Linked DNA regions of Homo sapiens: region 1 is linked to region 2. Evidence: fine-mapped expression QTL. A gene starts in region 2. The other region holds a variant in brackets. All regions are shown on one strand. Distances are between the middles of the regions.

The links. PIP is the estimated chance that this variant, and not a neighbour inherited with it, causes the effect. A credible set is the group of variants that fine-mapping cannot tell apart.
Region 1: its variant is the best candidate, but not a certain one, in a credible set for the expression of RTL6 in nasal epithelium (TOPMed, PIP 0.85).

What each region holds. Positions count from the first base shown.
Region 1 is chr22:44,530,713-44,535,096 of GRCh38, forward strand. It overlaps LOC105373059 (a long non-coding RNA gene), which reads right to left. Exons shown (of 3, transcript XR_938300.2): 3 at 4,009-4,384. Among named protein-coding and RNA genes, the nearest start is that of RTL6, 35 kb to the left of the region's middle. The variant G/A (reference allele first, on the strand shown) is at 2,141.
Region 2 is chr22:44,495,996-44,500,379 of GRCh38, forward strand. It overlaps RTL6 (retrotransposon Gag like 6), which reads right to left and starts at 2,238. Exons shown (of 2, transcript NM_032287.3): 1 at 2,049-2,238; 2 at 1-1,816. The coding sequence starts at 1,561. The coding sequence ends at 842. RefSeq lists enhancers at 1-131, 132-909 and silencers at 2,169-2,298, 2,389-2,448.

The DNA of each region.
Region 1 (4,384 bases), 35 kb after region 2:
GAGCACAGTGCTTGTCATTGGAAGCCACTGAGAGACAGGGAATGTTTGTTATGCAGCATTATTACAGCCAAAGCTGACTAATACGATGGGGGACATTTTAAAACAACTGAGCAAAAGTAGAAAAACATTGTTAAATGCTTACTGTGTTCCATGCAGGCACTTAACCAAGAGCTTTACAAATAATAACTCATGGCCGACTGTGGTGGCTCACGCCTATAATCCCAGCACTTTGGGAGGCCAAGGCGGGCAGATCACGAGGTCAGGAGATCAAGACCACCCTGGCTAACATGGTGAAACCCCGTCTCTACTAAAAATACAAAAAAATTAGCCGGGCGTGGTGGCAGGCTCCTGTAGTCCCAGCTACTCGGGAGGCTGAGGCAGGAGAATGGCGTGAACCAAGGAGGCAGAGCTTGCAGTGAGCCGAGATCGCACCATTGCACTCCAGCCTGGGTGACAGAGCGAGACTCCATCTCAACAAAAAAATAAATAAAAATAAATAAATAACTCATTTAATTCTTACAGCAACTGTATGTGGTCAGCGCAGTTTTCAAACTTATTTTACAGATAAGGAAACGGAGGCCCCAAGAAGTAAATAAGTTGCTGGGCACAGTGGCTCATGGCTGTAATCCCAGAACTTTGGGAGGCCGAGGCGGGTGGATCACCTGAGGTCAGGAGTTCGAGACCAGCCTGGCCAACATGGCGAAACCCCGTCTCTACTAAAAATACAAAAATTAGCCAGGTGTGGTGGCATGCACCTGTAATCCCAGCTACACGGGAGGCTGAGACAGGAGACTCGCTCGAACCTGGGAGGTGGAGGTTGCAGTGAGCTGAGATTGCGCTACTGCACTTCAGCCTGGGCAACAAGAACAAGATTCCGTCTCATAAAAAAAAAAAAGAGAGAGAGAGAGATAAATAAGTTGTCTCTGATGAATCACCAGTGCCTGGCAGAGCCCAGATCTGAACCTGTGCAGCTTGGCTCTGGCACCCAGATGTTTATTCACACTGGTGGCAGAGATTTGGCTCCGTAAAGCCGTTAACAACCCAGATAACGGAATGTCTGCAGCCCTTAAAAAGACACAGTCAAGCAGGTTAAATGGTCAGTCCTCAACCTTTCCTTTTGCTGAACAGCCACTGTAGATGGTGTCCCATACCCCTCTCCCCTGAGCACACCCCCTGACCAGTGCAGCACACACCACCTGTCATGTGACCACGGCCACGAGCACCCCCTCATTCCAGCTAAGCAAATGCCTCAGAGCCCCTGTACCTGATGTCGACCTTGAACTCATGATGATTTCTGAAAAAGGTCATGGACTTTCCAAAGCATCAGCATATAAAATGCTTACAAGCCTTCATGCATCCGTGGTGGCCATTATTTTAAAGGGTTTTTTGTTGTTGTTGTTGTTTTATTGAGACAGAGTCTTGCTCTGTCACCAGGCTGGAGTGCAGTGGTGTGATCTTGGCTCCTGGCAACCTCCACCTCCCAGGTTCAAGCAATTGTCCTGCCTCAGCCTCCCGAGTAGCTGGGTCCACAGGTGCACACCACCACGCCCAGCTAATTTTTGTATTTTTAGTAGAGACGGGGTTTCACCATGTTGGCCAGGATGGTCTCGATCTCTTGACCTTGTGATCCCCCTGCCTCGGCCTCCCAAAGTGCTGAGATTACAGGCGTGAGCCACTGCGCCCAGCCTATTATTTCTTGATGTAGAGAAGAAGCTGTGTGTGTGTGTTTACAGAGAGGGATAGGGATCCCAAATTTGGAAGGAAGGAAGAAAAGGAAGGAGGGAGAGAAGAGAGGGAGAAAGAGAAGGGAAGACAAGGAAAGTGAAAAGAAGCAAAATAAATATCCTCCCACACATAGCCCTGTTGGGTTGTTTTGTCTGTTCTGGTTTCACATATAAATGTCATCTTGGAATGGGTCATCTTTTCTGTCTGATGTTTTCCACTCAACACTGAGAGAGTCATCGTCGCTGCTGCCTTTGTCTGTGGCACCTGCGTTCTTGTTATTGTGAAGTATTCCATTGTGTGGCTCTCCCAAGTGCACCTCTCCACCCACTGTGATGGGCGTACGGGTGGACTTCTAGTCTGAAACGGTCAGGAACACCCCAGTGGGTGTCTCTGCACCTGCGGTGAGCAGCTGTGT[G/A]CATTTCCGCCCTCTGCAAACATCCTTCGGAGCAGGATGGCCGGGTCACTGCGGGGCTCAGGTTCAGCTTAGTAGATACTGCCAAGTGGTTTTCAAAATGGCTGAGCCGGTTTCCAATCCTGCCAGCATTTATTTCATCTATGGCACAGAGGCTATGATTATTGCAGGGAGGAGCAGAGACTAGAAGGGGCGTGGAGGAGGTTTTTTGTTTGTTTTGGATTGTTCGGTTTTGGTGTTGGTTTTGGTTTCAGAGACAGGGTCTCACTCTGTCACCCAGGCTGGAGTTCAGTGGCGTGATCTTAGCTCACTGCAGCCTCCATCTCCCAGGCTCAAGTGAACTTCCCACCTCAGCCTCCCGAGTAGCTGGGACTACAGGTGTGCGCCACCACCCCTGGCTAGTTTTTTTTGGTATTTTTTTGTAGAGACAAGGGTCTCACTTGGTTGCCCAGGCTGGTCTCGAACTCCTGGGCTCAAGCAATCCCCACTCCTCGACCTCCCAAAGTACTGGGACTACAGGCATGAGCCACCATGCCAGGAGGCAGTTTTTGAGGTGCTGATAACATTGTATCCAGATCTGGGTGCTGGATACATGGGTCTGTAACCATTGACAATTCACCCAGCTACACACTCAGAATTGGTGCACTTTTCTAGATACATATTATACTTCAATATGTTTTAGAAGAAATATGTCCATAAACGCAGATACATATACACAACTCTGCAGCAAGGGGCATGAAAAATTAAAAAATAAATAATAAATATTTTTAAAAGATACATGGCTGCATGTGGTGGCTCACGCCTGTAGTCCCAGTACTTTGGGAGGCTGCGGCTTGAGCCTAGGAGTTCCAGACCAGCCTGGACAACAAAGTGAGACCTTGTGTCTACAAAAAAAGTTTTAAAATTAGCCAGCTGCGGTGGCATGCGGGTATGGTCCCAGCTACACAGGAGGCTGAGGCAGGAGGATCGCCGTAGCCCAGGAGGTTGAGGCTACAGTGAGCTGAGATCGTGCCACTGCCCTCCAGCCTGGGTAACAGAGTGAGATCTTGTCTCAAAAAAAAAAAAAAAAGATAAACGCATGAGTCAAATGTCCCCACGTCCTCTAGTTATTGCCATCTTTCCCCTTAATACGCAAATATGTATGGGTCACCTGCTATGTGCCAGACACTGGGTGTACAGTGGTTCGCCAGACAGTGCTTGCACACACAGGGCATACATGCTAGGGGCAGGAAAAAATCATACACAAGTAGCCAGATAGGCACATCAATGATGGCGGCTGTGACGTGTGCTCTGAAACAAAAGGGGCTGCAGAGAGGAATGAAGGATCCAGCCTTCACTTAGCCAGGTCATCCAGAAAAAGCTGTCCTCGTGGGGCCAGGGGGCCCAGCCAGGAGGAAGTAGCAGGTAACAAGTATCCTGGGTACTGGGAACAAGAGGAGAAGATCTTGGGGCACCCAGGGACCAGCAAAGAAGCTGTAGGCCTGAGGGCCAAAGAGCAAGGCAGGGGAATGGCGCAAGGCAGGGTGAGGAGGCAGCTGGAGGAACAAGGAGCTGGAGTCTCATCCTAAGAGCAGTGGGAGCCACAGAGTGTTCAGGCAGGAGAGTAGCATGATCAAGTTTAGGTGCCAACCTGCACCTCCCCGTGATAACGCCACACAGGCCACCGTCTCTCCTGGAGTTTCCTGGCCTCACCCTCCAAATTCCTGGGCAGTCATACTGGCAGTCACACACCCCTCAAAGGAACACTGGTAGGAGCTGCACGAAAAGGCTGTCATCATTGTCCCTGGGAGGAAGAGTGAGGCAAATGTGCCTCTTAATATGAGGTTTGCACCCAAATTTTCTTCAAGTAATTCTTACATTATGATTACATATTACATACAAATACATGTTTATTATATACAAATGCAAATACATGTTTATTATATATTAACGTATAATTAAGTTTTTTTTAACTTGGGGCAACGAATATTTATGGTTCATTCAAAGGAGGGTTTCTTTTTTTTTTTTTTTCCTTTTGAGATGGAGTCTCGCTCTGTCACCCAGGCTGGAGTGCAGTGGCGTGATCTTGGCTCACTGCAGCCTCCGCCTCCGGGTTCAGACAATTCTCCTGCCTCAGCCTCCAGAGTAGCTGGGATTACAGGCACCCGCCACCACACCCAGCTAATTTTTGTATTTTTAGTAGAGATGGGGTTTCACCATGTTGGCCAGGCTGGTCTCGAACTCCTGACCTCAGGTGATCCACCTGCC
Region 2 (4,384 bases):
CTCAGGCGTGGGTGTGTAGGAACCTGCAGCCTGATAGACCTGCCCAATGGCTGAGAGTCCACCACGACCTTATTTAGCAGGCAAGTTCCAGATTCCCCAAGCCTCTGGCTCCATCAGAACACCAGCAGCTGAAGTCAGGCATTAACAGAGGTGCAACATTGGTCCTTCCCAGTGAGAGCAGTGGGGCCTCCCAGACTGCATATTCATGTGCAGAGTGGAACCTGGCCCCCAGACATGGCAGAACTACGCTCCTTGCAGCAACCACTCGACCACTACAGCACAGATGAGGCCCTGCCCGCTGCACCGGGCCCTGGCAGGGCTGGGAGGCATCTTGGGCAGGAAGCCAGACCCCCTCTCCAGGTACACCCATCAAGCCACCAGCCTGGCCAAACGGGCATCTTTCTGTCCAGAGCTCATCAATAGGAACTGGGCAACCAGGTGGGGAGCCGCCAGGGGAGCTTGGAGAGGGCAGAGTAGGAGCCTCCATGAACCAAGTCAGGCTGGAAGGGGTCAGCCCTCGTGGTCCGTCAGCGTGCGGCGGAGTCCCTGTGCCTAAGTAGCAGAGCGGTAGTCATTGAAACAGGCCGGGATGCCAGCAAGAGGGAGGCGAGCATGCAGTGAGCGATAGGTACAAAGCTAGCACGTAAGAGGAAGCACGGCAAGGTGGGCAACCAGGGCGCCAGGAAGGACGGAAGGAAGATCTCCTCGGGGAACACGTCTGGAGAGGCAAGAAGGGAGGTCTTCAAACAGGGGCAAAGCTGTCGTATGGGCATTTCTTCTACACAGCAAAGAGCGTATGCTACCTGGGTGGCTGCAGACGCTACCAAGTGCTGGCGGATTCTTAAAGATTCCGTGCTCGGGCAGGCAGGGCTGGCGCTGGACTAGTCCCGTTGGAAGCTGGATGCACTGGGCAAGGCCCCGTGCCCGCAGAGGCCAGCTGGCGGCAGAGCATCTGCCTCTCTCGCACAGCCCTATTAGAGGCAGAAGTCTTCCTGATTTGGGCGCGCCGCGCATGCCGGAGCGGAGACTTGTAGGTTCTCCGCAACTCTGCCAGGAACCCCTGATAGTTGTTGCGCAAGGGGCTGTCAGGTTGCATGTGGGGGATAGCCCACTTCTCCGCCTCCCCAGTCAGTCGAGACACAAGGAAGGCCACACGCTCGGCCTCACCCGGGAAGCGGGAGGCCTGGAAGATCATGAATCTGTCCATCTGCATCAGGAACCCCGCCAACCGGCCTGGGTCCCCGGAAAAGGGCTCGGGCAGAGAGGTTGGAGGTGTGGTCATGGGTCGAGTCCCGTTTGAAGTAATTGAGGAGATGGGCGGGGTGATCTGCAGAGCCCCCGGGATCCGCGCCCTGGTGCGTAACAAGGTCAGCTCTGCCATCACGCTCTCCAGCATGTTGGTGAGATTGGCCTTCTCCGCCCGCAGGGTGGAAGCCTCCCGCCTCAGCGCCGAGTTGGTGAGGCGCAGGGAGGTCAGGGTGTCAATAACGTCATCCATCTGGGCATTCGGAGACGCTGCCAAGGCTGGGCTTTCAGCTTTGGACGTCTGCGGCTGCACCATGCTGGCCAGAGGTCAGCCACACGCTGAGATCCGCGGGTGGACCAAGAGGGTGTGGTGACCAGGTGGGCCCCTGTAGAAATGGGGGCAGTGTGGGGTGCACGACGGCAGGGCGCTGCGAGACCCCCAAGCCGAGGGCCCGAGAGAGGGGCACGCGGTGCCAGGCCCTAGGGACTTCGGCCCCGGTCCCACGCGGCTCCTTTACTGCAGACTTCGCGGACTACGGAGCCAGACGGGTGGCTGGACCTGCTCTGGGCCCTGGAGGATTAAGAAAAGATGTTTTCAAGGTTTCAGTTGCGACTAGCGGGCAGGAGGGTGAGGGGCGGCGTGGAGGGCCCGCGCGTGGGTGGCGAGGCTGCACAAAGCCCCGCGGCGCCCGCCCCGCGCCCGCCCGGGGGAGAACAAAGGGGGCTGCTCCTTGGCGGCCGCGGGCCTGGGGGCCACCACAGTGGCGGGGCCCGGCCGGGCAGGGGGCCGGGGGCACGCGTACCTGGGGTCTCGCGGTTCCTCCGCGGCTCTGTCCGCCGCCGGCCGTGACCAAGATGGCCCGCGCGGGGGACGCGGCCAGGCCGATGAATCACCGCGCGGACCGCCGAGAACTGCTTCCCGGTCAGCGCAGCCAAGCGACGGCGCTGGCGATGGCGGCGGGCGGCCTCCGGCAGGTGCAGGGACCGGGCCAGGCCGGGGCCGGGGCAGGGGCGGGGCCGGGGTCGCGGCAGAGGGCGGGTCACCGCGCGGCCTTTGTGCGGGCGGGGCCGGCGCGGTGGCGGTGGCGGGCGGGCCTTAGGCTGGCCCCGCTGGTTGCCATGGATACCGACCGCTCCCGCGCGTGCGGAGACGACCGCTGCCCCGCCCCCGGAAGTGATGCACAAAGTCCCACCCCCCCCCACCCCCCAACTCGGGCTGCTGCCAATCGGGGAAGACTGTAGTTGCTGCGGCGTCTTCATCAGGGCGGGTACCTGGTGTTCTCCCAGTCATTCCTCCCAAGAGGGCTTGCAAGGCTCTTTCTGTGGTTGTCATTGGGTTTATTTTTTTGATGATTTACTGTTCTTCTTATTTTTTTTTTTTTTTGAGACGGAGTCTCGCTCTGTCGCCTAGGCTGGAGTGCAGTGGCGCGATCCTGAGTCACTGCAACCTCCGCCTCCCGGGTTCAAGCGATTCTTCTGCCTCAGCCACCCAAGTAACTGGGATTACAGGCGCGTGCTACCATGCCCGGCTAATTTTTGTATTTTTAGTAGAGACGGGGTTTCACCTTGTTGGCCTGGCCAGTCTCCAACTCCTGACCTCAGGGCATCCGCCTGCCTTGGCCTCCCAAAGTTCTGGGATTACAGGCGTGAGCCACTGCATCAGGCCCTTATTGTGATTTGAATATAAATTTAATGTAACAAATCTTGATGTAAGAGAAGTAAAAAAAACTTTATACTACTCAGACTCCCTCCACCTAAAGATAGCAAATAGTAATACATATATATGTAACGTAGAGATAGTAATATTTCTGTACTTCCATCCAGTCATTTTTCTATGATATGTTCTACAAAATATTTTTTACCTTATGAATATTTTGTAACCATAACAGCACATTGAATTTTGAGCATTTTCCTATTAAAGATAGTTCAGAAGCATGATTTTCAGTTATTGCCTGTGGTCCATGGAACTCCTGTACCGCAAAGTATTTAGCCATGCCCTTTTTGATAGATCCTTATCTTGTTTACCATGCTAAAGTTTTATAAACTACACTTGTATATAAATCCCCACCCTTTTCTCTGCTGGGTTCCCCAGAGTAAATACCAAGGAGTGAAGATACCTGGCTGATATGGTTTGGCTGTGTCTCCACCCAAATCTCATCTTGAGTCGTAACTCCCACAATTCCCACATCGTGGGAGGAACCTGGTGGAAGGTGATCGAATTATGTGGGCAGGTCTTTTCTGCACTCTTCTTGTGATAGTGAGTGAGTCTCAAGAGATCTGATGGTTTTAAAAAGGGAAGTTTCCGGCCGGGCACAATGGCTCACGTCTGTACTCCCAGCACTTTGGGAGGCCAAGGCGGGTGGATCACGAGGTCAGGAGATCGAGACCATCCTGGCTAACATGGTGAAACCCCGTCTCTACTAAAAATACAAAAAATTAGCCAGGCGTGGTGGTGGGCGCCTGTAGTCCCAGCTACTTGGGAGGCTGAGCCAGGAGAATGGCGTGAACCCAGGAGGCGGAGCTTGCAGTGAGCAGACATTGCACCACTGTACTCCAGCCTGGGCAACAGAGCAAAAGTCCATCTCAAAAAAAAATTAAAAAAAAAAAAAAGGGAAGTTTCCCTGCACAAGTTCTCTCTTTGCCTGCCGCCATCCATGTAAGACCTGACTTGCTCCTCCGTGCCTTTCACCTTCTGCCGTCATTGTGAGCCTCCCCACCACACAGAACTGTAAGTCCAATAAACCTCTTTCTTTTGTAAATTGCCCAGTCTCAGGTATGTCTTTATCAGCAGCGTGAAAACAGACTAATACACTGGCCAAAGGGTAAGAACTGTTTGATTCCGGGTCTGGATTCCCAGCTTGACCTAGGTGATCCTTCTGCATGGTCAGTTTCAAGCTGGCATGGCTGGAGAGAAAAGATACTGAGAAATAAAAATAAAAATTTAAGCCCCCCCCCCCCAACCAACTGAACAGACCCCCTCTTGGCCAGGGGACCCCAGAGAAACCTGGGAAGCCGAGTTCCTGGCCATGATGGGATGGGAGGTTGGACACACTTCATTATCTGCCCCCGCTCCATAACCGATAACCACCATTAGGCTTTTTTCCTTAAGAGTTAAACAGAAACAAGCCTCTTTGAAAGA